5 linked regions of the Homo sapiens genome follow. The protein of the gene in region 2 purifies or fractionates together with the protein of the main gene of each other region. This does not show direct contact. Each region holds a gene or a part of one and is shown on either strand. Other genes may lie near its edges. The genes, in order: XRCC3, TPSB2, PC, PRKD2 and ACOT9.

Region 1 (5,986 bases), on a different chromosome or scaffold from region 2:
TCCGGGGACCCTCCTGCCAGCTTCCATCCTCCCCCGTCTCCCCGGGCCTCAGCTACGTGAACCTCAGCACGCTGTCTGTGGCGAGAAGCCGGAGTGCTCATGGAGCTGCCGCAGCAGCCTGGTGACAGGGCAGGGCCTCGCTGTCCTGACCCTCCATCCTTGGCTGTTGGTTTTTATCCTCCTGTTGGTGGCCTTGTGATCACAGCTGCTGCCACAGCTGCAGACACGACGCTTGCAGACCAGGGACAGAGAAGGGCTCAGCCAGGGAGTTCCTTTCTCACCTGTGTCTCTTATCCAAAAACCAATGTTTCCAGAAGTCCCTGCAGACTTCACGGCTGTGAAGGGGGCTGGGGCTGTGAGGCTTACCAGGGGGAGCGCCCTGCCACAGCCCCGATCCCGGTGAGTCCTCAGGGCCCACAGAGCCTTCTGGAGCAGCCTGTCTGCGGGAAGCCCCCTCCGCTGGATCTGGTGAAACCCAGGGGCGCTTTCTTCATTCCCACCCTTCCATCTCCTTGTGTTTTCTGTGTGGCTTTTCTGAAGATCACACCAGTGCTTACTGTTTTCCAGCCGCACAATGGTTGTCTTTTCACTGCAGCGTTCAGCGCACCCGTGTTGAGGGGGTTTCTGATGTGGTGGGTGTAAGTCCCCGTGGCCGGGTGGGGCGCTTCGTCCACCACTGCTCCCTCTCGTGTGCGCTTCCTCGCACTTCCCTGATCGGCTGATCAGTCTGCAGCATTTGTCGTCTTTCTACAAGTTTGAAATTAGAAAGTGATGCACTTATCTGAGTCCAAAATTAACTTCCTTGCCCTCCTCCCCAGATGGCAGGTCCTGGGGATCTGCACCCCTGTAACTGCTGCCACCGCCGTTCTGATTCGCACATGCTCTGCCCCCTGCCCTGACTGCCCTGCGCAGCTGGCGTTTGGACCTGGGCTCTGCTACCCTCCCAGCGCTCCCCTCCCCAGGGCACATGTCCTCTCCCGCGGCTCAGCCCAGATCCATGCCTGGTGGGCGGGTGGTGGAAAGCTCGGTGCTGGTTTTTTCCTGCCCCCTTCTGGAGCACTGTCTCCAGCTGGCATGGAACTGGGTGCCTGTCGTTTCTTCTCAGTACCGGAACCTGCTCTCAGCACCGGGACCTGCCCAGCCCTGTCTTCTGGCTTCTGCCCCAGCTCACGAGGCTGGTATCTGTCCGAGTGCCAGGACTCAGGGCGCAGTGTCCAGCAGCCCTTTCCTCGTGCCTGTGCATCGGCCACACTGTGTCCAGGGTTTCCAGGGAGCAGGGGATCCGGTCCCTACCCACCTTGTCCCCAGAATCGGAAGCACGGTGCTCTCACAGTGCTCTTAACAAAGCACCTTTTGTCACTGTGTTGCCCTGCGTTGTGACAGTCTGACATTTTCCTGTAATTTATCTGTGTTATTTCAGCCAAACTGAAATCGGTAAAGGAGGTTTTACACTTTTCTGGACCAGACTTGAAGAGACTGACCAACCTCTCCAGCCCCGAGGTCTGGCACTTGCTGAGAACGGCCTCCTTACACTTGCGGGGAAGCAGCATCCTTACAGGTAGGTGGGCCCTGGCATCTCTGCCAGGGGTGACATGTGGCTCCAGCATCATGGTCCCAGTGGTGCAGGGCAGGGGCTGTGCAGACTTCACCCAGGGACCAGCCTCAGGGCGTGTGGCAGCTGCTCCAGCCCCAGAGTTCCCATCTTGCTTGTCCTACACCCATGGGGCTGTGGTCACAGCATCGGGTCAGAAGATGCGTGAGGTGGACACGGGCTGTGGGACCTCCTGGGGACCTTGCTCCATGGACCAGAGGAGGGGGTGCAGGAAGCAGGGGTGGATTTGGCAGTCAGCACCCAGAGCCCTTCAGGCTCTGGCAGGGTGGGAACGGTGTGAGATGGGGCCCTGGCCACGGTCCCACCACCACGTGTGGGAAACCAGGTCTCAGCAGGGGAAGGAGGTACCCAGGGAACCCCATGCGCCTGGACGGACAAGGTTTCCATCCCTGCATCTCAGCAGGCCCTAGTAGGCAGCGGGGTCCTGGCATGAGCAGGGCCCTCTCTCCCCTGCAGGTGGCTCAGTGGCCCAGGCCCCGAGGAACGTGCTGAACTTGGGGCTGCCGTGGTGGGCAGGTGCCACGGCCACACACACGGTGCTGTGGGCAGGGCTCTGGGCAGGCCTCACAGTCAGGGTGGCCTGCTCCACCTGGACGGGGTGCCCAAGGCAGTGTGCAGACTCCAAGGGAGGGGCTGCTCCTCCCGGCCCAGGCCCCAGGCCAAGAGCGCAGCCTGCACCGCATGTCCCACCTTGAGCCTTGCCCTGAGGGGCTTCGGTGTCGTGGAGGAGGCTGTGTCAAATGGCTCATCCAAGGCCCTTTAGCCAAGAGGCTGAGACCAGCATTGCTCCAGAATGGTATCTGTCACAGAGAACTGACGGCATGTGGTGTGCATGTGTGCGCGCCTGCGGGAGCCCATTAAAGCCGCTTGAGAACTGTTCAGCACCCCAGGGCATCCCAGCTGGACAGAGCTGTGCCTTTTTCTTCACATGGAGGCTGTTAGGGAGCGCCTCGGGGCTCTCTGGAAGCTTTGGCTGAAGGCGTCTGGTGCTGCAATTGCCCCATAGGGGGATCCCTGCGGGCATGTGATGGTGGCCCTGGGGCTCCCCCTGACTCTGCATCTCAGGTGCACCCGCCCTTCCCGGCTGGGCCCCCCTCCCTGCCCTCAGCACCTTGCTCACCCCCATGACCGCAGGCACCTGTGCTCCAGCCACACTGCACCTGGCACAGGCAGGCTGACCATGCCTCCCGCAGTCCCCAGCCCTGCCCGCAGGCCCAGGAGAGTCAGGCCTGACACTATCCCTGCCCTTTAGCACTGCAGCTGCACCAGCAGAAGGAGCGGTTCCCCACGCAGCACCAGCGCCTGAGCCTGGGCTGCCCGGTGCTGGACGCGCTGCTCCGCGGTGGCCTGCCCCTGGACGGCATCACTGAGCTGGCCGGACGCAGCTCGGCAGGGAAGACCCAGCTGGCGCTGCAGCTCTGCCTGGCTGTGCAGTTCCCGCGGCAGCACGGAGGCCTGGAGGCTGGTGAGTGGCCACCCCTTCCGTGGGGTCTGGGCAGGTGGGCGGCCCCTGCTTTGTGTGGGACAGCTTTCCGTTGAGGTGGGGCAGTGGCCGCCTCTTGCGCTGTTCCTACCATTGCGTCTCCCTCCTTCTCACCCTGATTGCCCTCGCTCCTTCCAGAACAGGGAGGGGGAAGTGAGGCTGGGCTCAGCTGACAGCAGGAGGGGTGGGAGGGTACGAACCCCACCACCAGGCAGCCGGCCCTCAGCAGAGCTAGGCCCCCAGGGGTCGCTGGCTGAGCACAGCGATGCCGGCCCACGTTCCGCACAGCTGCCAAGCCCAGAGTCCACAGAGCCAGCAACGCAGGGAGGGCAGCACAGCCTTTCCCCGGGTGCCCCGCCGCCAGGCCAGGTATGCTCCTGGCGCGGCCCCGTGAGCCTGTACGCTCTGTCTGTGAAACGAGGGTTCCCTGCATTGGACTAAAGCGTTCAGAGCATGCCTGCCTGGGTCTCTCAGGTGTTAAAAGTTCACGTAGTTTTAAACTGTGAGCTGTGAGGAGGAGAGATGTTTCTCAGTAGCTCCTTAACTTTTAAACTAATTCCCTGGTGTCAACATGCGATTCCCACGTTGTCTTAAACTCCACGTGAACAGAGTGGCAGTATTTTTTCATCGGTGGCACCTCCGAGCACATCTGCTAGGCTCACTTCCCACACAGGGCCGGACCCCAGGCCCTGGACCCACAGGCCCAGCCAGCCACCTCCTCACGGGCCTGACCTGCCAGCAGCGGTGTGGCTGGGAACCTCACCTCTGCCACCCTCAGGTCAGCGTCATCCCCAGGACCCAGGGTGTGCTGTGCCTGCCTGAGCTTCAGTGCTGGGTGGAGGGTGAGGGGTCTCCTGAGCCTCCGTGTCGGGTGGAGGGTGAGGGGTCTCCTGAGAGCCCAGCTGGGGTCTGCTCACGCCACAGGCATTTTTGTCCCTGCAGCCCAGGGGAGGGCACCCTCTTGTCAGGTGCCTGAGTCCCTGCGGCTGGTCTTGGGGATGAGCCTGGAGACAGCCAGAAGCCGGGAGGACAGGAGTTGGCCTTGAAAATGGGAGTCTCCCGCTTACCGCACGGAAGAGCTGCTGTGAGGTGGAGGCGGGACTCGAGCGTGCTCAGGAACGGGACGGGAGCCGCCCTCATTCTCCAGCGTCCTCCGTGCCAGGCTTCGTGCAAATCTGATTTGTGCAATGACTCCCCCTCAGCTTCCACCCCGTTGGCCTTTTCAGTGAAGCCCACACTCCCCGATACCCAGGGACACAGAAGCCTTAGGACACCCTCCCTGAATCCCCCAGCTGTGCCCAGCCCAGTGACTGCTGCGGGATGACAGCACAGTCCAGCCTTGCGGGCCAGGGGAAGGGAGGGGGCCCCACGGCCACCGTGACCACATGCAAGGTTAGGGGTCAGATGTGCTTTCCTGGGGAAATGACTTCCTTTCCTGGATCCAATCTAAAGGCCCGAATTTTGAAAAGAAAGCGGCAGGCGGGCTCTGAAGTGATTCCGACTCCCGTGCTTAAGCCGCGTGAGGCTCTCCCAGGCCTGCTGGGGCCCCGCCCACCGCTGGGCTGTCCACAGCCACCCTCCTGCCAGCTTCACGATGTCCCCATGACTGTGCAGCCCCTACATAACGTCACCCCAACAAAAACACGCTGCTTGACCGGTTCCACCTGCTTCCGAGCCTTCCAGCCCAGCCTCTCTCCAGCCAACAGGACGGAGGAAGCCCAGGGCCCCGACCTTCCTGTGGCTCCTGACTAGGGGCACAGTCACTGCTGGGGACACTGGTGGGGAAGGGAACCAGCCACAAAAGGGATGTGGCCTCCCAAGGCAGTATTTATACGTTCCTGGCCTCAAGCGGGCCAGATGCTTCTCAGAAGCTTAGTTCTGACACAGAATGGGGCGGGGGGTTCCTGACCCATTTTTGCAACTCTTCTTTACGTTTGAAATTCTGTCAAAGCAAAATCAGCTCAGAATTAAAGGTTACGCGGACACTCACAAACAGGCTGCATGACACGGCGTGGGGGCACTGGCTCTCCCACAACTGCATGTGCCACTGCAGGAACAGGACGACGCCCCGTGGGCCACGGGGTCCTGGCTGGGCAGCCTTCCTGGCATAGTCAGTGCTTAGAGAGCTCGCCGGCCTTGTCTTTTTGTTTTTGTTTTGCAGGAAACTGGAGTTTTATTATTACTCAAATCAGTCCCCCTAAGCCTTCCTGTTTTTTAAATTGAGATGTAATTTACATGCCATAAAATTCCCTCTAAAAGTGTACAGTTCGGCCTGATAGGCGCAGTACCTCATGCCTGTAATCCCAGCACTTTGGGAGGCCGAGGCTGAGGCAGGCGGATCATGAAGTCAGGAGTTCGAGAGCAGCCTGACCAACATGGTGAAACCCAGTCTCTACTAAAAATACAAAAATTAGCTGGGCGTGGTAGCGCACGCCTTGTAATCCCAGCTACTCAGAAGGCTGAGGCAGGAGAATCACTTGAACCCGGGAGGCAGAGGTTGCAGTGAGCCGAGATCGCACCACTGCACTCCAGCCTGGGCGACAGAGTGAGTCTCTTGTCTCTCAAAAATTAAAATAAAATAAATAAATTCAGTGGCTTTTAATAGAAGCACAAAGTTCTGTGCCCGTCACCACTATCCAATTCCAGAACAGTTCCCTCACCCCAAAAGGAAACCCTACCCATGAGCAGTCAGCCCCCACCCCCAGCAGCCTGCCTCCCCTTTCCCTACCTGTGACTCTTCCTGTCCTGGGAGCTCCATGCAAGTGCAGCCGGACAGCACGTGGTCTCGTGACAGGCTTCCTGCATTGGCATTGTGTTTTCGAGGTTCATCCGTGCTGGAGCAGGTGTCAGAACTGCCTTCCCTTTTAAGATTCGATCATCCCACTGTAAGG
Region 2 (5,982 bases):
CACCCTTCTCTCGGGGACACTGCCCCACGTGGCCTCTTGCCCAGTGTCTGTCAATGGCCTGGGACCCCAGCCCTGCAGCAGCCCCAGGGGAGCGGCCGGGGATCGGGGCGGGGTGCCCAGGACGCGCCCTGATTGGCCCAGTGTTAGCCAATCAAGGCTCTCGCATCCCCATGGTGCTGATTGGTCCGCCTCCCAGGCCTGACCCAATCGGAGCATTCCTAGGAGGAGCGGCCCCAGAGCCCCTGACTCGGGGGTCCCAGAGCCCTCTGCACACCACAGCCCCGGTGTCCCCGTGTGTCCCTGGGTTCTCCCAGCCCTGGTGTCCCCTGAGTCTCTTCTTCACCGTCAGCCCTGGTGTCTCCCGTGTCCCTGCCACACCCTCATCCCTGGTGTCCCCCGTCACCCCATCCCCTCACCTCCTGGGCTCCTGAAGGTCCCATCTTGTGGGCCTCATTCATGGAACCAGGACGGGGCAGGTGGAGGCCTCTGGGGAGTTTGTCCAGAGAATGGAGGAGAAGCAGGGTCATGAGCAGGAGCGGTCTGGGCCACCCCTGCCTGTCCCCCGGGGGGTGCAGCCCGGAAGGAGTCCAGATGCATATGGCCCCGCAGTGCAGAGTCAGCCCCAAACCAGGCTGGTCCCAGGCAGGGTGGGGGCAGGAGGAGCCCTGGAGTGGCCCTGTGTTGGGGGTCGGGGGGCAGGCAGGGGGTCCTGGGGCTCAGAAGCGGAGGAGGTGGGCTGGAGGCCCCAGTGACCAACAGGCCCAGGGGAGTCAGGAGGTGGGGTGGACGGACCTGCAGGGACAGTGTCAGCGCTGAATGGGATGGAGAGCACAGGGAGCTGGGGCCGGGGGCAAGTCCACAGGGAGCTGGGGCCGGGGGTGAGACCATGGGGAGCTGGGCTGGGGCTGGGGGTGAGACCATGGGGAGCTGGGGCCGGGGGCTGGGACTAGTCCATGGGGAGCTGGGCTGGGGCTGGGGGTGAGTCCATGGGGAGCTGGGCTGGGGCTGGGGGTGAGACCATGGGGAGCTGGGCTGGGGCTGGGGGTGAGACCATGGGGAGCTGGGGCCGGGGGATGGGACTAGTCCATGGGGAGCTGGGCTGGGGCTGGGGGTGAGACCATGGGGAGCTGGGCTGGGGCTGGGACTAGTCCATGGGGAGCTGGGTCTGGAGCTGGGGGTGAGACCATGGGGAGCTGGGGCCGGGGGCTGCGACTAGTCCATGGGGAGCTGGGCTGGGGCTGGGGGTGAGTCCATGGGGAGCTGGGCTGGGGCTGGGGGTGAGTCCATGGGGAGCTGGGGCTGGGGCTGGGACTAGTCCATGGGCAGCTGGGCTGGGGCTGGGGGTGAGTCCATGGGGAGCTGGGCTGGGGCTGGGGGTGAGTCCATGGGGAGCTGGGCTGGGGTTGGGGGTGAGTCCATGGGGAGCTGGGCTGGGTCTCCTGGGGTTGCACCTGCACTCCTGTCTGCCCTTCCCTCTGCCGATGAAGCTCAGATCCCATGATAAGGAGGCACCTGCAGACCAGGGGTCCTGCACGGACAGCCCCAGAGGTGGACATTGAGGACTCGTAGGAGGACTTGGGTCTCATACGGCGGGTGGGGAGCAGGGCCCCTTCCTGGCTGAGGACACTTGGTGCTGTCCCCTCTCAAGGCTGTTTCCCCATCTGACAAAGGGGTCTCATGTGAGCCTCCCACCAAGTGAGTCGAGGAGGGCTGGCGCCACCCCCGTGGATTCGGAGTCCGTAAGAGGGGTGTCACCCGTCATGTCCCCACCCCGTGGGCACCTTCCCGTCTCTTGGAGGGTGGCCCATGGACATGAGTTCCTCACCCCGTGTCCCTCTTGGGGAAACAGGTTTCAGGAGCGATGGGTCTTGTAGCCTGGGACAGCCAGGCCACCTGGGTGCAGCAATGCCTGAAGGCCTCCTGGCACCGAGACAGGGGCAGGAGCAGATCCCACCAGCGGGAAGGTGGTGGGTTCTAGTGCTGGGATCCACCAGCTGACAGGTGGAGCTGCCAGTCTCCAGTGCTCAGCCCTCAGCGGGGCCTGCCTGGCAGCCCCACACACAGAGGGCATCGGGGTGGCGGGGGCACGTGTTACACGGGGGCCCTGGGTCTGAGTCATCCACTTCCTCCGAGTCTGGATGGGAGGACCCAGCGCCCCTCCTCCGCCCCCTCCTGATCTGGAAGCATAAATGGGGAGGGGAGAGCCCACTGGGTAGAAGGAACAGGGAGCGGCCAGGGTAAGTCCCCACTCTCAGAGACCCTGACATCAGCGTCACCTGGAGCAGAGTGGCCCAGCCTCAGACTCAGAGCACCAAGACCCAGGCCTGCAGGCCTGGACCCACCCCGGTCCCCCCGTCCCAGCTCCATTCTTCACCCCACAATCTGTAGCCCCCAGCCCTGCCCTGTGAGGCCCGGCCAGGCCCACGATGCTCCTCCTTGCTCCCCAGATGCTGAATCTGCTGCTGCTGGCGCTGCCCGTCCTGGCGAGCCGCGCCTACGCGGCCCCTGGTGAGTCCCAGCCGGGGTCCACCCTGCCCCTCACCACATTCCACAGGTCAGGGCCTGGGTGGGTTCTGGGGAGGTCGGGCTGGCCCCCACACAGGGAAGGGCTGGGCCCAGGCCTGGGGCTGCTTCCTGGTCCTGACCTGGCACCTGCCCCAGCCCCAGGCCAGGCCCTGCAGCGAGTGGGCATCGTTGGGGGTCAGGAGGCCCCCAGGAGCAAGTGGCCCTGGCAGGTGAGCCTGAGAGTCCGCGACCGATACTGGATGCACTTCTGCGGGGGCTCCCTCATCCACCCCCAGTGGGTGCTGACCGCAGCGCACTGCGTGGGACCGTGAGTCTCCCGGGGCCTGGAAGGGTGGGGAAGGGCTGGATGTGAGCCCTGGCTCCCGGGTGCTCCTGGGGGCTGCCCAGGGCCCTGAGTGGGATCCTCCGCTGCCCAGGGACGTCAAGGATCTGGCCGCCCTCAGGGTGCAACTGCGGGAGCAGCACCTCTACTACCAGGACCAGCTGCTGCCGGTCAGCAGGATCATCGTGCACCCACAGTTCTACACCGCCCAGATCGGAGCGGACATCGCCCTGCTGGAGCTGGAGGAGCCGGTGAACGTCTCCAGCCACGTCCACACGGTCACCCTGCCCCCTGCCTCAGAGACCTTCCCCCCGGGGATGCCGTGCTGGGTCACTGGCTGGGGCGATGTGGACAATGATGGTGGGTCTGGGGACAGTGGAGGTGGGGCCAGGGTCTTAGCCACAGCCCAGCCCCTGGGCTCCCTCTGGGCTCCAGGTGGGGGTTGCCCGGCCCCCTCCTGAGGCTGCACCCTCTTCCCCACCTGCAGAGCGCCTCCCACCGCCATTTCCTCTGAAGCAGGTGAAGGTCCCCATAATGGAAAACCACATTTGTGACGCAAAATACCACCTTGGCGCCTACACGGGAGACGACGTCCGCATCGTCCGTGACGACATGCTGTGTGCCGGGAACACCCGGAGGGACTCATGCCAGGTGGGCCCCGCCTGTCCCCCGCCCCCCGCCCCCCAACCCCCACTCCCAGGCCTGTTCGGCGAGCGCTGACCTCTGACCTTCCCAGGGCGACTCCGGAGGGCCCCTGGTGTGCAAGGTGAATGGCACCTGGCTGCAGGCGGGCGTGGTCAGCTGGGGCGAGGGCTGTGCCCAGCCCAACCGGCCTGGCATCTACACCCGTGTCACCTACTACTTGGACTGGATCCACCACTATGTCCCCAAAAAGCCGTGAGTCAGGCCTGGGGTGTCCACCTGGGTCACTGGAGAGCCAGCCCCTCCTGTTCAAAACACCACTGCTTCCTACCCAGGTGGCGACTGCCCCCCACACCTTCCCTGCCCCGTCCTGAGTGCCCCTTCCTGTCCTAAGCCCCCTGCTCTCTTCTGAGCCCCTTCCCCTGTCCTGAGGACCCTTCCCCATCCTGAGCCCCCTTCCCTGTCCTAAGCCTGACGCCTGCACCGGGCCCTCCGGCCCTCCCCTGCCCAGGCAGCTGGTGGTGGGCGCTAATCCTCCTGAGTGCTGGACCTCATTAAAGTGCATGGAAATCACTGGTGTGCATCGCTGTGTTTCTGGTTGTGGATGTCACTGGGAGAGAAGGGGTCCAGGTGTGCTGAGGACACCTGCCACAGTGTGAGGTCCTAGCCCTCAAGGCACAGCCAGTCACCGTGGGACGGGGCCTCCTGGGCAGCCCTGGTCCCCGAGGCTGGCTTCTCCCCACACGATGCATCCAGCATTCGGGTCACACAGAGCCACTCGGGCAACTCAGTTGATTATAAAGGACAGCCAGGTCCCTGCAACCGGGTCAAGACAGAGAATGGTCACCGGGAGCCCCAGGGCTGCCCATCACGAGCCCCTACCCCACGCTTCCCACGAGCTCTTCTCCCGGCCCCTCCGTCCACTGCTTGTGCTTTGCCTAGTTGTTTGCTTTGAGACGGGATCTCGCTGTGTCATCCAGGCTGAAGTGCAGTGGTGTGATCAGGGCTCACTGCAGCCTTAACTCCTGGGCTCAAGCGATCCTCCCATCTTGGCCTCCCATATAGCTGGGCCACAGGAGTGAGCCACCACGCCCAGTTAATTTTTGTATTTTCAGTAGAGATGGGGTTTCGCCATGTTGGCCAGTCTGGTCTCGAACTCCTGACCTCAAGTGATCCGCCCGCCTCGGCCTCCCAAAGTGCTGGGATGACAGGCGTGAGCCACCGCACCCGGCCTGAGTTTGACATTTTCAAATTCATTTTGAGGTCTTTCTCTACATCAATAGGTGAGCCCTCTGCGTCTGGCGAGTGTTGCATTTTATCCCGGGCTCTTGTTTGCATTTTATATTTGAACATGATTACACTCAGGAATGAAATGCGGGGCTGTTCTGGTTGAAAACAACTCTCTAAAGAAACATTCACTCTTTCCTTCCAACTGTTAGATGCAGAGATGTGCATTTAGTCTCCCGAATCTCTGCAAATGACCTCTGTCCTCACAAGGGGTGGACTCAACTCCCAGTGCCCTCTCCAGCCCCACGTGACCTCTGCCTCTGCAGCCCCTGAAGGCCCATCCCTCGGCTCCTGTTCTGCAGGCCCAGCGTCTTGTTAATGAAGATGGACCTGGAACTCGGGCCCTTCTTCCTCCCTCTGGCCCATCCCACCTTCTAGGGATCACAGAGACAGCACGGGGTGACCCCCAGGGAACACTGAGCCCCTAGAAGCACTTCCACACGCCCACTGGAGGTTTTGCGGGGTGGGAGTCGGAGGGATGAGACCCCGAAGGGAAGCAAGACGGCCCCTCAGGACAGGGCTGCCGGTGTAAGGAAAGGTGGACAGCAGGGGCCGGTCACTGGGTGGAGGGGGAGGGCGGGCTCCAGCCCCAGAGCTTCCCAAATTAGATCTAAGATCCCTGGGAAGCTCAGTGAAGCTCAGCCCAGTGACACTGGCAGATGTGAGCGTCAGCTTCAGCAGGAAGGGTCTCTCAGGACGTGGCAGGCAGGCTGCTGGCCAGGGCTGCAGCCACCTGCGTTTTGACTGGGACGGGGGCACCTGCTCCAAGGTCACCCACGTGGCTGCCGGCAGGAGGCCCTGGTTCCCCGTCACAGGGGGGTGTGAGGCGGAGGGCGAGTGGGGGGGACAGGGTTCCCACCGAGGGGACGGCACCCAGGTGGCCAGGCCACCGCAGACAGAAGCAATCCCAGGTCTCCCAGGGTCCTGGACAACAGGAGACCCCACCAAGCTGGGGGCAATCACCAGGGCCAGGCCCCCCTCCCGGTTCCTCAGTTGGCTCTCCTGTCCAATGGTGGGGGTGAACGGCACCATGTCACAGGACTGCTGGGGCTCAGGGGATGGTGCCTGAAGCTTCTTCCTCCCCAGCAGGCCTGCAATCTGGGTCGTGTGGAGCACTCTGCGGGGAGTGGCGTGCTGGGGCACAGGCAGAAAGACGGGGTCCCCAGTGCTGCAGGTGAATTGAGTTGGGACAGGTGAGGGCCCTG
Region 3 (4,520 bases), on a different chromosome or scaffold from region 2:
GGCCAAGCCCAGAAGTGGTCCGCAAGATGGGAGACAAGGTGGAGGCCCGGGCCATCGCCATTGCTGCGGGTGAATATAACGGGCAAGCAAGGGGTGGCCCCGCAGCTCCTGGAGAGGGTCCAGCAGGGAGGGGTGGCAGGGATTCCCGCCTGTTACAGAGACTCCCCCACACCTTTCTCCCAACAGGTGTTCCCGTTGTCCCTGGCACAGATGCCCCCATCACGTCCCTGCATGAGGCCCACGAGTTCTCCAACACCTACGGCTTCCCCATCATCTTCAAGGCGGCCTATGGGGGTGGAGGGCGTGGCATGAGGGTGGTGCACAGCTACGAGGTGAGTGAAGATGCCCAGGGCTGGGAGCAGGGCAGGGCAGCCTGCCGTGGGGGCAGGGGCGGACCACTCAAGGGATCTGGAAAGTGGGTGGGGTTCATGGCAGGGGAGAGGTAGCGCTGTGGGGTCTGAGGTCTGGCTGGCCCCTGCCCGCCCTCGCAGGAGCTGGAGGAGAATTACACCCGGGCCTACTCAGAGGCTCTGGCCGCCTTTGGGAATGGGGCGCTGTTTGTGGAGAAGTTCATCGAGAAGCCACGGCACATCGAGGTGCAGATCTTGGGTGAGTGGTCCTGACGCCCCGCCTGGGGCAGCTGGAGGCGGGAGCTGAGAGGCCCAGTCCTGGTGCCGTCACAGTGGCTGGCCTTGGGGACAGCCCTGGGGCCTGTCGGGCGCTTTTCCAGAGGACTCTGGAAAGTGGGCTCTAGGGGCCGAGCTGGCAGTTGGTCCTCACAGCCTTGGTGATGCTGGTGTCTCTCCTGGCAGCCTCTGTACCGCTGGCAGCCGGCACTGACTGGCGACAGTGGTTATGTGGGGGTGATGGGGCATTTAGGAGGCGTGTAGATTCCAGTAAAAGCTAAGCCCAGTTTACCTCCCTCCCCAGGGGACCAGTATGGGAACATCCTGCACCTGTACGAGCGAGACTGCTCCATCCAGCGGCGGCACCAGAAGGTGGTCGAGATTGCCCCCGCCGCCCACCTGGACCCGCAGCTTCGGACTCGGCTCACCAGCGACTCTGTGAAACTCGCTAAACAGGTGAAGGGTGGGCTTCCCGTGTTGGGACAGGAGCCTGTGCTCACAGGCCGGCAGGCCTCACAGTGGGGCGCTGGTTGGGGAAGGGGACCCTGAGTCCCCTTCTGGGGACTGGGGATGGGGAGAAGAGGGTGAAGGACTCTCCTGGGGGCCAGAAGTGGGTTTGTGGCATCCTTCCCATGTGCAGTTGAGGCACCTGGCCCAGAGGCCAAGCTTAGAGTCCAGGATGGCTGAGAAGAGGGAGGGAAGGAGCCCCAGCCGCCTCCTCAGCCCTGCTGCTACACAGACCTGGCTTCTCTGTGGCATCAGCTCATCCCTGTCATCAGGAGAATGAGATTCCGTGGATTCTGTCAAGATTGAGGACCATTATGAAGGCAGTCCTCCCTCATGTGCTTCTGTCTCCTACATCATGTTTATTATGATCTGTTTCCTTGCTCTGCACCCTCTGCCCATCTCTGCTTTTCTGGGACCTCTGGTCGGGGGGTCCTGGGCTGTGGAGGAGGCTGAGGTGGCAAGCTATCTCCCCACAGTGACCTGCCCCAGGACTGGCCTGGAGAGCACCTGCTGTGGCCAGGTGTGCAGCGGGGTCCTGCCCCCTCTTCTTCCCTGGCCTATAGGCAGCAGAGGATGCGTCACCTCCCCATGCCGAAGGCCGGGGTGTGCACTCTGCAGCAAGGCCTCAGCCACAGCTAATGCGAGGCATCGACCAGGGTCGCGTTTAAGTCAGGTCTTATTTACTGGCTTATACTATTTCACATTCCAGAACAGGTTTAAGGGAGGTGATTCAGTCTGGTTTATCGTTTTGGTGAGACCAAAAGTGAAACTGGAATTAGGGCTGAAATTTGAGTTAGAGTCATTATCTGTTGGTACCTCTCAAATGAATTTCTTTGGGTGGTGGTGGCCAGAGGTGACTGCGCAGTAGACTAGAAGGGGACTTTCTGAAAACACCTCCAAGCAGAAGCAGCGGCTGGGAGAGGCCTGGGTCTCCGTGTCTGGGTGGATGACACAGCCTTGGCGGGCAAGCCCAGGAGGCAGCAGGGCAAGGTGCCGAGCCTGGGATGGGTGGGGGCTTCTGCCCATGTCTCGTCCCAGATAAGCTGGGTGCAGCCATCTGTGGCTCCGGGAACCCTGGAGCCTAGTGGACTACTTGGGGGACGTGTCCAGGCAGGAGCATGACCTGGGCCCTGGGGTCTGTCTGCCATCTGTGGGGGCAGGGTTTGCCACAGGCCATTCTTTTACGGAACCAACCCAATGGGTGGGACGGAATCCCTGTCCTGAGTCCAGTGAGTTTGCCCAGGCCCTGCCTGTGCCCTCCCCTGCTCACGTGGCCGCCCCCACAGGTGGGCTACGAGAACGCAGGCACCGTGGAGTTCCTGGTGGACAGGCACGGCAAGCACTACTTCATCGAGGTCAACTCCCGCCTGCAGGTGGAGCACACGGTCACAGAGGAGATCACCGAGTGAGTGTGGGCGGGCAGGCGGGGCGGGAGGCGCGGCTTCTAGGATTTGCATAAAGTACAGGCGAAGTGGCTCCTGGGGCCAGCCAGGGGGCTTGCTCACTCCCCACATTGGTGGAGAGCAATGGGGATCCAGGTACTTAGTGTTTTAAAAGTCATTATTCTAAAAGCATTACGTGGTTATTATAAAAATCAGCACAAAGGAGCAAATAAAAATGACTGACAGCCCTCCTCTCTGTCAGGACGCTGCCGATTGCTCAGGCCCAGGTGCTCCCATCTGTCAGAGGAGTAAAGCAAGGCTCAGAGACATTTGGAGAGTTGCTCGGGGTCACACAGCTGGCGCTGGAACCCAGGCATCTCCGGCTGTCTTTGGTTTGCTCCTTTCCCGGTTTACCTGTTTTACTAGAGACATAGTTTGATGCAATAGAGATGTTTTATATAGAATTTTTATTCTACTTTTCAAATTATTTAATATTTGTTGAAGGCATTTCCCCAGGCCATAATTCTGTCTGAATACTTTTAGTGGCTGCGTACTATTCCGTCTTGTGTGTATTTCTTAACTTACATAGTCCTCGATTGTTAGGCAATTAGTTTGTGTGTCTGGCTTTGGTGGTTATTAAGCGTGTCACTTATCATCTGTGTGCCTGAATGTTTGGCTTCAGCTCTGAAGAGTTCTGAGGGTAAACCCTTCAACAGGATTATCTGATTGAAGGATAAGTAGCATCCCTCGGAACAGCCCTCTAGAGAGGTGGCACTAGCGTGCTCCCTGCAGGCACTGAGGATGACATTTTCAAAATCCGCCTGGTTTCTAAATGACAGTCATGATGGCCCTCACCCTTCAAGGTCTCTACTATGAGCCATGTAATTTCTTGACGCTGCTTTGGGCCAGCCCATCTCACTGTGGAGCATCCCTGACCCCAGTTCTGCCCCCAGCCCCAACCCCACCTGAGACTGAGGATGCTGTCGGGGTGGCTGCTGTGGCTCGCCGGGGGCATGGAGGCCCCTCCCTCCCCTTAGGAGAAGCTTAGAGACAAGGCCAACACTTTGGCCGAGTGAGACTCTTCCCCTCAAGCTGCTGTGAACTCCTCGGTCTTGGGTCTGCTTAGAGCGTCCTGTTAGGGATGGGAGTCTGTCTGCTGTGGAGCACGGGTTTTGTGTCAGACAGATTGGGGCTCAGGTGCTCTCAGGTCCCAAGCCACGTGGAGCCTGGGTGAGCTCCAACCTCTCTGACCCTCGAGCTCCTCCTCTGGTGGGAATGACAGGGCTCTCAGCACACCGTCGTGGAGATGAAGCATGGGAGGAGTGCAGCCTGGCCTGTGGCACTGAGTGGAAGCTGTCATCTCTGCTGCGAAGTGGGCCAGCAGGCAGCAAGAACACGGGGAAATCCTGCCAGTGTAGGTTCCAGGCTGCCTTCACCACAAGCCTCAGTGGCAATACATGTAAAACCTTGAGTGGTTTTTTTTAAGACATAGTCTTGCTCTGTCACCCAGGCTGGAGTGCAGTGGTGCAATCTTTGCTCACTGCAACTTCTGCCTCCCGGGTTCAAGTGATTCTCCTGCCTCAGCCTCCTGAGTAGCTGGGATTACAGGCACACACTACCAGGCCTGGCTAATTTTTGTATTTTTAGTAGAGACAGGGTTTCACCATGTTGGCCAGGCTAGTCTCGAACTCCTGGCCTCGTGGGATTCACCCACTTTGGCCTCCCAAAGTGCTGGGATTACAGGCATGACCTGCTGTGCCCAGCCTGGTTTTTTTGTTTGTTTGTTTTGTTTTTTAAACAGCTGTTCCACTTGGACTTGTGACTGCCCTTAGGAGCAGTAAGGCTGAGCTTGGAAAACCCTGCAGAGGTGGGGAAGCTTGCACTCTCCAAGCATCTCTAGGGGGTTTTGGGCACAAGTCCAGCAGGAAAACAGGCCTCAGAAGGACAGGTCCTGACCCAGCACCCACTGTGCAACCCTCTCACAGCTGTGGTTACCATTTCGAGG
Region 4 (5,136 bases), on a different chromosome or scaffold from region 2:
GGTGCAAGCCACCACACTTGGCTAATTTTTGAACTTTTTGTAGAAAGGGAGTTTCACCACGTTGGCCAGGCTGCTCTCAAACTCCTGAGATCTAAGGGATCTGCCTGCCTCGGCCTCCCAAATTGCTGGGATTATAGGCATGAGCCACCACACCCAGCCTGAATTAATAGTTGTGATTAGTAGTAACACCACCACCAAATAAAAAATCAGTCATCACAAACCATGAGATTACTTTTTCTCCAAGTTCTCTACCCTCCAGTCACATTCCTTCCATCTCTCCCCAGTTTCCAACTCCTCCTCCATTACTCCTCCCTCTCCCTTCTCATCTTCTCTCCTGGCACTCTTCCTGTATATTTTCTACCCCAGCTCGTCCTCCTTCCAAGACTCCTCTCCCATCAGTCCTCTCTCCCCACCCCTTCCATCCTTCCTCTTTTCAGGCAGTCCTCCTTCCAGATGAACTCCATGTTGGTACAACAGAGTAATGATTCGAGAGTGCCGTGTGCTGAGATCAAGGCCATGGGGCCAGAGATGAGTCCGTTTTAATTGCTGGGGAAACAGGGAGGGGCCTTGGAAATAGCTCCCCCCACCCCACTCCCCACGTGTCCCATCCAGTTTGGGCAGGAAGCCACTTTCCCTAGAACAGTTCATTGCTGGGATCCTGTGAAGAACCGCTGTGGAGGGCAGCAGCTGGACGAGGGCACAGGACCTCAGAGAACACTGATGCGCTCCGCCAGCCCCTGCATGTCGTGGTCCTGTGGTGGACAGGCCCCACCGAGATCCCTGTCCGTGGGCAGCCCAGACCCAGGCAGCGGATGCTCTGCTGCAAACTGCTCCCAGCGCGCGTCGTCACTCTCATGCGTGATGTATCGCTCTCCCATCTTCCCCTCCAGCTCTCGGAGGTCCAGCCACGTCTGGTACTCCTGGGCCCGAGAGAACTGGGGTTAGCTTGGGGTCTGCATTGGAGCAGTGCCTGGATATCCTCTGGTTTGCCACTGAGAGCTGGGTACCAATGAAGGTGAAGCCATACCCTCTGCAACCCACCCAGCCAGTAGACATTTAGCTCCACCCCCTCTTCCTGCACCCAGCCAATGGGAGGCCTAGCCACATTCCAGACCCAAGGAAACCTACATCCTTCACAACCTGCCTAGCCAATAAGCGATCTACTCCCACCCCTTCCTCCAATCCAGCCAATGGGCCAGCCCTGCCCCCTGCATCACCTGTAACCAGGGGTGGCTGAGAGATTTGTCCACGCTGTAGCGTTTGCGCATCTTCACCTGCAGCAGGTTGTTGATGAGGTCAATGGCTGCACAGGAAAGAGAAACAGGTCAAGCCCTACAGGTCAAGGGTCACTCCTCCTCCAATAGGCACCCCCTAGCCTACCTGCCTGCCATCAACACCTTCCTTCTGCACCAGCTCAGGTGGCTCAGAAGCCTCACCTGTGCCAATCACTCACCCACCCATTTCCTCATTACATTACAAATTTGTCTCCTCCTGCCCATGCATGTTCACACCAGCTCCCTCTCTTCACCTGTTCTCTACTTCAATTTCCCCATTCCCCTATGTCACCTTTTTTTTTCTTTTTGTCATATACAGGTACATACAATTACACCTGTACTATTCTTTTTATTTTTACTTATTTATTTATTGAGACAGAGTCTCGCTCTGTCGCCCAGGCTGGAGTGCAATGGCACGATCTTGGCTCACTGCAACCTCCGCCTCCCGGGTTCATGTGATTCTCCTGCCTCAGCCTCCCAAGTAGCTAGGAATACAGGTGTGTGTCACCATGTCCTGCTAACTTTTTGTATTTTTAGTAGAGATGGGGTTTCACCATATTGGCCAGGCTGGTCTCTAACTCCTGACCTCAAGCAATCCGCCTGCCTTGGCCTCCCAAATTGTTGGGATTACAGGCATGAGCCACTGCGCCCGGCCTAAATGGATTTTCAACCTACAATACTTCCTTTTTTTTTTTTGAGACAGGGTCTCATTGTTACCCAAGCTGAAGTGCAGTGGCGTGATCAATGCTCACTGAAGCCTCCACCTCCCCAGCTTAATTGATTCTCCTGCCTTAGCCTCCTGAGCAGCCAGCTGGGACTACAAGCACCTGTCACTATGGCCGGCTAATTTTTGTATTTTTTGTAGAGATACATTGCCCAGGCTGGTCTTGAACTCCTGGGCTCAAGCAATCTGCCTACCTTGGCCTCCCAAGGTGCTGGGATTATGGGCTTCAGCCACTGCGCCTGACCAACTTATGATATTTTCAATTTACAATGGGCAATGGGTTTATCAGGTTTATCTAACCCCAGTGCAAATCAGGGAGCATCTATGTCATCAGGCTGGGCGCGGTGGCTCATGCCTGTAATCCCAACACTTTGGGAGGCCGAGGCGGGTGGATCACCCGAGGTCAGGAGTTCGAGACAAGCCTGGCCAACACGGAAACCCCGTCTCTACTAAAAATACAAAAAATTAGCTGGGCATGGTAGCGCATGCCTGTAGTCCCAGCTACTCAGGAGGCTGAGGCAGAATCGCTTGAACTCAGGAGGCAGAGGTTGCAGTGAGCCAAGATCGTGCCACTGCACTCCAGCCCGGGTGACAAAAGCGAAACTCCGTCTCAAAACAAAACAAAACAAAACAAAATGTCATCAGATGGTAGTTAGTCACCATTGCCTGCAGAAGGCTCAGAGATAGGCCTGTTCATTGTGAAAAAGAGGACTAGCGAATGTCAAGCTTCAAGACAAGCCAGCACTCATCCGAGGCTCTCTCCTTGATGGGAAGCCATGAAGGACAAGGCTTCACTGTATGAACCCATCCGAGGAGAGGCCTGGTGCACACAGGCACCCTGCTCCCGTCAACACCCACAGGATTCTGTGATCCTCACACAGGTGCAACCACACTTAAATTCACTTGTGCACACTCGATGCACTTTTACTGAGGGACTTCTGAGTGGGTCTCAAAAGACAATGCTGGCGGGGTGTGATGGCTTATGCCTGCAATCCCAGCACTTTGGGAGGCTGAAGCGGGCAAATAACTTGAGGTCAGGAGTTCAAGACCAGCCTGGCTAACATGGCGAAACCCTGTCTCTACTAAAAATATAAAACATGAGCCAGGCATGGTGCTGTGTGCCTGTAATCCCAGTTACTCGGGAGGCTGAGGCAGGAGAATCCCTTGAACCCAAGAGGTGGAGGTTGCAGTGAGCCGAGATCACGCCACTGCACTCCAGCGTGGGTGAAAGAGCGAGACCCCACCTCAAAAAAAAAAAAAAAGCCAGTGTTGAGCACCCCCAATATTACTCCAGGACTCAAGTCAATCCACATTCTCACTGCTTAGGGCCCATGCTCTTAGACCACCACCAAGACCTTGTCTTGTCCTGCACCGAGCAACCTCCGTGTCACCCTGCTCCACCTGCTCCATGAAGCCGCACCCTCCAGAGAGGACCCTTCCCCTTTCCACCCTTCGCGGACCACTCAATGAGCTACCCTGCACCTGACCCCTTCTGTCCAAGTCATCACAGTATTCCCAGAGCTGGAACAGTCAATGCCTGGCACATCGTGGGCACTCAACATGTTGAATCAATGGTTACAAATACATGAATGTACTTGTTGAATAAATGGTTATAAATAAATGAATGAATGATCCCCCCCCTTCCCATACTCCATCTGTCTTCCTGAGCTCCCTGGCTCCAACACAGGTCCCTTGTTCTCCTGGCTTCTGACACACCCCAGTATCTTAGCCCTGCCTCTGGCCCTCTAAACATGCCATCCCACACCCAGCCTCAAAGCTCCAGGCCTTAGGACTTAACTTTTCCAAGCAGGGAAAGTTACAGACCCATTCCCAAGTAGGTTCAAGTCACCAGGCCCGGTGCCACTTCATCAGGCCCAGCCACAACACCAAAGCCCCAGAATGCAGAGTGCAATGTCTGCCTCAGTCCTGGCTCCCTTCTCCTCCCCACTCCCATCCACTCCCAGCTTCCAGGACTCAGGGTCAGCCCTGTTCCTGGACCTCTTCGGAAACCCTCCACGGCCACGTCCCTAGACTGGCTCCCTTGGTCACTGAACCGACCCCAGGCTTCAGGCCCATCTTCACCCAAGTCACGGCCCCAGTACACAGCAAAGTAGCCATGCCCTTGTTTCTCAACCCTACCCACCGGTGCCTCCTTTTTGCAAGGCTGACCCTTTTGGGGTCGTAAACCCAAAGGCTCCAGGTCCCAGCCAATGCCTTGGGAGGCTCAGCCCCTTCTCCTGGTCACCGCAGCCCTTTGGTACCCTCAAGTCCAGTCCCTTTCCTGGTCCCACCCTAGACAAGCCAAGTCTCACTCAGCCCCCCTAAGGTTCCAAGTGTCCTCAGCGCTTCTGGGGCACTTGGTTTCCAGCCCAAGTAACCTAGTCTAGGCCTGAGTCCCAGCCCATCTTTTACAGGACGGCTCCTCCTGTAGCCACATCCCTCCAGTAGGCCCGCCCCAGCACTGGGCTCCACCCCCAAGGTGCCAGGCTGTTTCCGGGTCCACCCCCCTCTCATGGCTCCGCCCACTTCTCCAGCCCCACCCCACAACCCACCCGCCCATGGGGTAGGCGGGCCCCAGGCACCTCCAGCTGAGATGTGGCTCCAGGGGCTGGCCGGGTACATGAAGGCGGCGTTCTGGATCTGGTCATTGATGTCCTCATCCTCGTTGAAAGGGAAGGTGCCGCTGAGGCTGACGTACATGATCACGCCCACTGACCACATGTCCAGCGAGCGGTTGTAGCCCTGGTTGAGCAGCACCTCGGGTGCCAGGTAGGCCGGCGTGCCCACCACTGAGCGGCGGAACGACTTCTCGCCGATGATGCGAGCAAAGCCAAAGTCACACAGCTTCACCTGCAGAGGGCAAGGGATGGAGGCTCCACCAGGTGATGGAGCCGCACCCACCCCAGCATCCCCACCACACCACCCTCCATGGTATTCCAGAGAAAGCTGGATGCTGGTTTGAATCCAGGCTCCTTGGCTCACTAGCTGAGCAACCCTGGGCAGGTGACTTCCCCCCTCTGTGCCTCAGTTTCCCCATCTATAGGAAGAAGAGCAGAAGAGCACCTATCTCAGAGGACTGCCATGATGGTTAGTGAATTAAACCATCCAAAGCCCACAGGACAATATTTGGCATTCAGT
Region 5 (6,725 bases), on a different chromosome or scaffold from region 2:
CCCGAGTAGCTGGGACTACAGGCGCCGCCACCGCGCCCGGCTAATTTTTTGTATTTTTAGTAGAGACGGGGTTTCATCATGTTAGCCAGGATGGTCTCAAACTCCTGACCCTGTGATCTGCCCACCTTGGCCTCCCAAAGTGCTGGGATTACAGGCATGAGCCACCGCACCTGGCCGTCTTTTTGTTTTTGACCATCTAATCTGCATTTTCTCAGAACGTGATTTGAATTTTCCATTTTTTTCATTATTTTGTTTTATGTATCTTCTATAGGTTCATATGCCTTACTGAAGGAAACAGAGTAAGTATTCCTTCATTCTTCCATCTCAGAAACAAGCAGCCAGGCATGGTGGCTCATGCCTGTAATCCTAACACTTTGGGAGGCTGAGGTGGGTAGATCACCTGAGGTCAGGAGTCCGAGACCAGCCTGGCCAACATGGTGAAACCCTATCTCTATTAAAAACATAAAAATTAACCAGGCATGGTGGCGCACACCTGTAGTCCCAGCTACTCTGGAGGCTGAGGCAGAATCACTTGAACCCAGGAGGCAGAGGTTGCAGTGAGCTGAAATGGCCCCATTGCATTCCAGCCTGAGCAACAGAGCAAGACTCCATCTCAAAAAAGAAACTAGCATTCTACAACTGAATATATCTGGTTTTAAAGAACACACTGGAAAAAGCTAATCCTTTCTATTGCTACCATTAGCTGAAAGAGCAAAAAAATCATGACCCCCAACACATTAATAGGAACTATAATAGACACGTTAAATGTATCCAACATAAGAAATGGGATCTGATTCTGAATGGCTAAATACCCTGAATACGCATCACTAACAGGAGCTATATAACCAGTCTCACATACCTGAATAAATACACATATACACAGAAATTGTTTTGTTACACTAAGAAGCAGCATTTTCTGAAGAGGGATGAAAATCATTCCATCCTGTTTGTGTGAGAGGCAATACAGTATAGGGGTTAACCCAAAGGCTGGGCGCAGTGGCTCATGCCTGTAATGCCAACACTTTGGGAGGCCGAGGCAGGCGTATCACTTGAGGTTAGGAGTTTGAGACCAGCCTGGCCAATATGGTGAAACCCCGTCTCTACTAAAAATATGAAAATTAGCTGGGCATGCTGGCGGGCACCTGCAGTCCCAGCTACTCGGGAGTCTGAGGCAGGAGTATTGCTTCAACCCAGGAGGCGGAAGCTGCGGTGAGCCGAGATCGTGCCACTGCACAGCGAGACTCTGTCTCAAAAAAAAAAGAGCCCAATCATGCTGCTTGTTAGCTGAGTTACCTTAGACAAGTTACCTAACCTCCCTGATCCTCAGTTTCCTCATCTGTAAAATGGGGATAATAATACTACCTATCCCATAGGATTGTCAAAAGGATAAAGGAATTAACACATATTAAACCCTGAAGGGCACGTCTAGAAGAGCATGTCTAATATACTGACAAGTCCTCAAAAATCTCTAGCTATCATTATTCCAGAAAGTCATGCTTCTCCAAAGTCTCCCCTAAAGATCAAAAAGAACCAGGCTGGGCACAATGGCTCACGCCTGTAATCCCAGCACTTTGAGAGGCCAACGCGGGAGGATCACTTGAGACCAGTGTGGGCAACATAGGGAGATCCCGTTTCTACAAAAAAATTTTAAAATATTAGTCAGGCGTAGTGGTGCACACTTGTGGTCACAGCTACTCAGGAGGCTGAGGTGGGAGGATCACTTGAGCCCCGGGGAGGTCGAGGCTGCAGTGAGCCATGATCGCACCACTGCACTCCAGCCTGGGTAAAAGAGCAAGACTCTGTCTCCAAAAAAAAAGGAAAGATAGCCTAAGCCAGGCACTATCACGGACCACTGCCAAACATAGAATCAAATGAGGAGAGAAAAGAAGGGAGTTAATGAATACAGAGAAACACTTGGGCCAATTTATTTGGAAAATTGTAGTCCTAGAGCCCCATTGCTTTGCATGCTGCCTTAAAAAATTTGGAAATACATTCCTGTGGCACAACAAAGGCATAATTGGAACACTTTTTAAAAAAATGTTGCTTATACCAATAGCATATTGGTAATAATAAATCTATATCATACTGTCAACATAGCATTCAAGAGTATTCGGGTAATGGTAACTTTTTTTTTTTTTGAGACAGTCTCACTGTCACCCAGGCTGGAGTGCAGTGGCAACATCTTGGCTCACTGCAACCTCCACCTCCCGAGTTCAAGCGATTCTCCAGCCTCAGCCTCCCGAGCAGCTGGGATTACAGCTGTGCACCACCATGCCCAGCTAGTTTTTGTGTTTTTAGTACAGACAGGGCTTCACCATGTTGACCAGGCTGGTTTTGAACTCCTGACCTCAAGTGATCTGCCCGCCTCAGTATCCCAAAGTGCTGGGATTATAGGCGTGAGCCACCGCGCCTGGCATGTAATGGTAACTTTTCACTACATTTGGTATCCTATTTACTGATAATCTGATGGAAACTGTGGACCTCGAGCGGGCGTGGGAAGGGTTGGAATACATTTTTGCTCACACACACAATGGTATATACTATTTCAGGAGGTGCACAGACCCTTTTTGTACCCTCAGATCCCCCTATATTTGAAGATTCTGATTCAAACCAACCTCCTTAAGAAACTGAGGCCCCAGTTTCAGACGACTTTCCCCCAGTGCCAGTCAACAGGCACACCAGCAGAGTCCAGATAGAGCCCAGTTCTTCCGATCTCCCCCAATACATACACACACACACACACACACACACACACACACACACACACACACACCGCACTGAGGTGGAGGAGGTGGGAGAATGGTTTTAATCAATACTCAACACTTCAGTACCTCAGGGTTACTGGCTTATCTCCTGATAAGCCCTCAGGAGTCTTACTTATAGCAAAACCTCTAGGCCTTTACTGTGGAGAGGCCTTTGCAACACTCAAATCCCAGGACCTTGTAACTGAACCTTTCCAATCAAAGGAGATCAAGAAACTCAAGGCGGGGGGAGTGGGGAGGGACAGCATTAGGAGATATACCTAATGCTAAATGACGAGTTAATGGGTGCAGCACACCAGCATGGCACATGTATACATATGTAACTAACCTGCACATTGTGCACATGTACCCTAAACTTAAAGTATAATAATAATAATAATAAAAAGATGATTATTACAAAAAGACAAAAGATAACAAGTGTTGGTGAGGATGTAGAGAAAAGGGAACCCTCGTACACTATTGGTGAAAATGTAAACTGGTACAGCCATTTTGAAAAATAATGAGGCAGTTCCTCCAAAAATTAAAAATATAACTACCATATGATCCAGCAATTTCTCTTCTGGACATATATCCCAAAGAAATAAAAAAAGTATTTCAAAGAGAAAAAAAAAAAAGAAAACTCAAGGCCTCCATGGCCTACCTGGGGAGTCACATAACTCACCCTGGCTCAGCCCTGGGTCCCAAGCTTACAGCAGTTGGCAAGGAAGAGTGTTCAGTGCAATAACAGGCAATACCACTCATATGCCCTCCACTCTGAGGAAATAACCTCTATTTAGAGACTAAACAAAGGTGCCTCTTGCAAGTCTAAAAAAGAAAAGAAGCTACAAAGGTTGCCCACCAGTCAAAGAACCTAATCATCTCAGTCTATATTCATTTGTGAACTCCTCCTCTCACTAGACACTAAGAGATTATCCGCTTAAGGTTCAATAGTTTTTTGTTTGAGACAGAATCTCACTGTGTTGCCCAGGCTGGAGTGCAGGGGCGCGATCTCAGCTCACTGCAACCTCTGCCTTCCGGTTCAGGCGATTCTCCTGCCTCAGCCTCCAAAAGTAGCTGTGACTACAGACATGCACCACCACTCCCGGCTAATTTTTGTATTTTTAATAGAGACGGGGTTTCACCATGTTGGCCAGGCTGGTCTCGAACTCCTGGCCTCAAGTGATCCATCCACCTCAGCATCCCAAAACGCTGGGACTGCAGTCGTGCACCACCACACCCGGCCTCAATAGAATTTTCAAGAAAGGAACACAGGGTTATAAGAGAAAGCACCTGAACAAGACCATGGAGCTTTTGTAGAAGACCTTTCACATTGCAAGCTAAAGTCAACTGTGGCCCCTCTCATAATGACTTTCAGTCTGCCTTCAAATAGTTTAACAAAGGTTTTTTGTTTGTTTTTAAGTACTATAAACAAGACAGAACCCTTACAACTGATAACAAAGTCCCCAGGAACAGTGAGTGAGTGAGAGAGAGAGAGAGAGAGAGAGGGAGAGAGAGAGAGAGAGAGATATCCAGGACCCCCAAGAGAATTGATGGGGTTAATGTGAGTCAAAAGCACTATGAGTCACATCAGGGGGACAGGCCCACTGGCAGCGAGATAACTTCAGAAACTGGAGCAGGTGTGAGCCCCCTGGGATGCAGCCAGGCAGAAAACTTGGAAAGGGTGGCATGCTCGGGTGAAAGGGATTAGGGAGAGCTAGACACGCTCTGGAGTCTAAGGCCCTCAGGCCTTAACTGTGCCAGCTGGGAAGATTACATATACAAAAAGGCATCCTCCCTTACCCACGTGGCCCAATCAAAGCACCCAGCCTCTTATAAGGGCTTTGCGGCTCATTAAAGTTAAGTTCAAATTGGCACCAGGGTCCTAGACGCACAGTCCTAGGGTCCTGGGAGCCAAAAGGTACCCTGTAATCTCTGCCAATGTTACAACAAACTTAAGTAAGAGCCGAAGTAGGTCAAGCATTTAATCCTAAAAATGTTCTCCAAAGGAAGATGAAGGGCTAGAGGTAACATAGAACTCCAAATATTATCTTTCTGACAAGGGGCTACCCCGACGCGGCTACCAACCACACCCCGGATGAGCAAGGCCAAAGGAATTTTAGGGAACACCCAACTTCCTCCCTTAAAAGTGCTGCTTTGCTTTTAATATCAAACTCAGTGCTAGAAGTCGCCAAAGTGGGGGCGAGGTTCTCCCAACCAAAGGCCGGCGGGCTTATGTCCGGTCGGAGGTACAGTGGGCGAGCGCCCCTTATCATAGAGCCCAAATGCCCATGCGTGGCCCACTTCTTCCGCCGGGGCCAGCCCGAAGCTCTAGGGGAAGACGATGGCACCCCAGGCTACCGCCCTGCCAGCCCCTTCCACGCCCCGCCACCTACCGCAGTGCTGCCCGCCTCATTGCGCTAGGCTGCCGTGCGCGCGATGGAGAACCGGGCCCCGCGCGCTAGTCGGCGGAGGGAAACTGAGGCGATAAAAGACGCACGAGTACCAGACCGCGCCCTTGCTGAGGACAGCCCGGGAGCCGGACAGCGGTGTCCGGGGGCGGGACCGCGGCGTCCAGGGGGCGTGGCCGCGCTGTGCCGGGCGGACCCTACCCGTTCATTGGCGGGAGGCTGGAGTCCGCCTCTGCGGAGCTTCCCACTCAATCAGTTGTGCGGGTCGTGTTGCTACAGCGAGGACCGGCCTATTCTCGGTTGAGTAAACGAACCACGCAGCAACGCCAGGGCGTGACGTCGAGAAGAGGCCCGGCTCTGCCTAGTGGAGCTTGTCTCCTTTATCCTTGATCCCCGCGCCTTGGCTCCGTCTGTTCTTCCCCTTGGCTGCACATTGGAATCTCCTGGGCAACTTTCCAAAATACTGATACTTGGCCGGGCGCGGTGGCTCACGCCTGTAATTCCAGCACTTTGGAAGGCCTAGGCGGGCAGATCACCTGAGGTCAGGAGTTCAAGACCAGCCTGGCCAACATGGCGAAACCCTGTCTCTACTAAAAATTCAAAAATTAGCCAGGCGTGGTGGCAGACGCCTGTAATCCCAGCTACTCGGGGGACAGGCACGAGTATCGCTTGAACCTGGGAGGCGGAGGTTGCGGTGAGCCGAGATCGCACCACTACACTTCAGCTTGGGCGACAGAAGGAGACAATGTCTCAAAAAAAAAACAACAAAAAACTGATGCTTGAGACCCACTGGCTGGAGATTCTAGTTTAGTCCTGGGTGCGGTCTGGGCTTCGGGATGATGTCTAAAGATGCCCCCAGGTGATGCTAATGTAACCAAAGGCTAAAAACCACTGACCTAACAGGAAAAAATTGTTCCTCTCCTCTTCTCGGCCTGACCCCCAATGTTTGATATCTTGGGCGAGCTAGAGAGATTCAAGGCCAGAGAGTTTAAGATTATTTCACCCTACGATCTAATTCTCCATTTCTTTCAACGAATTATTATTGAGCTGTTTGCATTGTGCCAGGCACTATTGCAGAGGTTGGGGTTGCAAAAAGAAAAAAGGACAAAAATCCCCGCCCTTAAGGGGCTTGCCTCTTGATAAGGAAGGAAAACAAATCAACAAACAAGTTAGCAAATAACATGATCTCAAATATGGTAAAGCGGTTTAAAGGGGAAATAAGGTAACGAGTGGGGATCTTTTGAGAATATAAGCAAGTCTTGCTTTGCCTCTAAATACGGCAATTTCCTAAAAGGCAAGGGCCATATGCTTTTTCGCAATACCCCATACTTAGTAAAAATGTATTGATTTGAATTAAGCTAGCTTTCTGTTTTGAATCACTTCATGAGTTACACATGGAGCATGGTCTTCGGCTTTCTCTTTCTACTGAATTTTCCCTGCTTTTATCAATCTCACATCTGGAAGACTCCCCTTTTAGCCTACAAGGATCTCTCCTTCATTTTTGTTCACATTGTCTTTTCATTTTTGTCACATTGTTCACATTGTTCACAAGTCACTTTTCAGTGATTGTCTTGTT

Evidence for each region.
Region 1: the proteins of TPSB2 (region 2) and XRCC3 purify together in Homo sapiens (affinity purification with mass spectrometry; one large-scale study listed by BioGRID and IntAct). This does not show direct contact.
Region 3: the proteins of TPSB2 (region 2) and PC purify together in Homo sapiens (affinity purification with mass spectrometry; one large-scale study listed by BioGRID and IntAct). This does not show direct contact.
Region 4: the proteins of TPSB2 (region 2) and PRKD2 purify together in Homo sapiens (affinity purification with mass spectrometry; 2 studies listed by BioGRID and IntAct, with this or other methods). This does not show direct contact.
Region 5: the proteins of TPSB2 (region 2) and ACOT9 purify together in Homo sapiens (affinity purification with mass spectrometry; one large-scale study listed by BioGRID and IntAct). This does not show direct contact.

Annotation. Positions count from the first base shown.
Region 1 is NC_000014.9:103,704,094-103,710,079, reverse strand, and holds part of XRCC3 (DNA repair protein XRCC3), read left to right. Parts: intron 1-1,420; coding exon 1,421-1,558; intron 1,559-2,864; coding exon 2,865-3,077; intron 3,078-5,986. UniProt on the Homo sapiens protein: Involved in the homologous recombination repair (HRR) pathway of double-stranded DNA, thought to repair chromosomal fragmentation, translocations and deletions. Part of the RAD51 paralog protein complex CX3 which acts in the BRCA1-BRCA2-dependent HR pathway.
Region 2 is NC_000016.10:1,226,417-1,232,398, reverse strand, and holds TPSB2 (tryptase beta-2 preproprotein), read left to right. Parts: upstream 1-2,214; 5' UTR 2,215-2,237; intron 2,238-2,447; coding exon 2,448-2,508; intron 2,509-2,661; coding exon 2,662-2,833; intron 2,834-2,942; coding exon 2,943-3,208; intron 3,209-3,335; coding exon 3,336-3,499; intron 3,500-3,584; coding exon 3,585-3,749; 3' UTR 3,750-4,063; downstream 4,064-5,982. Other genes in the region: uncharacterized protein LOC124903621, read right to left, coding at 5,159-5,945. UniProt on the Homo sapiens protein: Tryptase is the major neutral protease present in mast cells and is secreted upon the coupled activation-degranulation response of this cell type. May play a role in innate immunity.
Region 3 is NC_000011.10:66,866,864-66,871,383, reverse strand, and holds part of PC (pyruvate carboxylase, mitochondrial precursor), read left to right. Parts: coding exon 1-69; intron 70-186; coding exon 187-332; intron 333-491; coding exon 492-609; intron 610-930; coding exon 931-1,082; intron 1,083-2,419; coding exon 2,420-2,538; intron 2,539-4,520. UniProt on the Homo sapiens protein: Pyruvate carboxylase catalyzes a 2-step reaction, involving the ATP-dependent carboxylation of the covalently attached biotin in the first step and the transfer of the carboxyl group to pyruvate in the second.
Region 4 is NC_000019.10:46,673,816-46,678,951, forward strand, and holds the end of PRKD2 (serine/threonine-protein kinase D2), read right to left. Parts: intron 4,849-5,136; coding exon 4,581-4,848; intron 3,642-4,580; exon of another isoform or gene 3,325-3,641; intron 1,304-3,324; coding exon 1,218-1,303; intron 921-1,217; coding exon 708-920; 3' UTR 501-707; downstream 1-500.
Region 5 is NC_000023.11:23,737,991-23,744,715, forward strand, and holds the start of ACOT9 (acyl-coenzyme A thioesterase 9, mitochondrial isoform a precursor), read right to left. Parts: upstream 5,287-6,725; 5' UTR 5,155-5,286; coding exon 5,135-5,154; intron 1-5,134. UniProt on the Homo sapiens protein: Mitochondrial acyl-CoA thioesterase. Catalyzes the hydrolysis of acyl-CoAs into free fatty acids and coenzyme A (CoA), regulating their respective intracellular levels. Regulates both mitochondrial lipid and amino acid metabolism.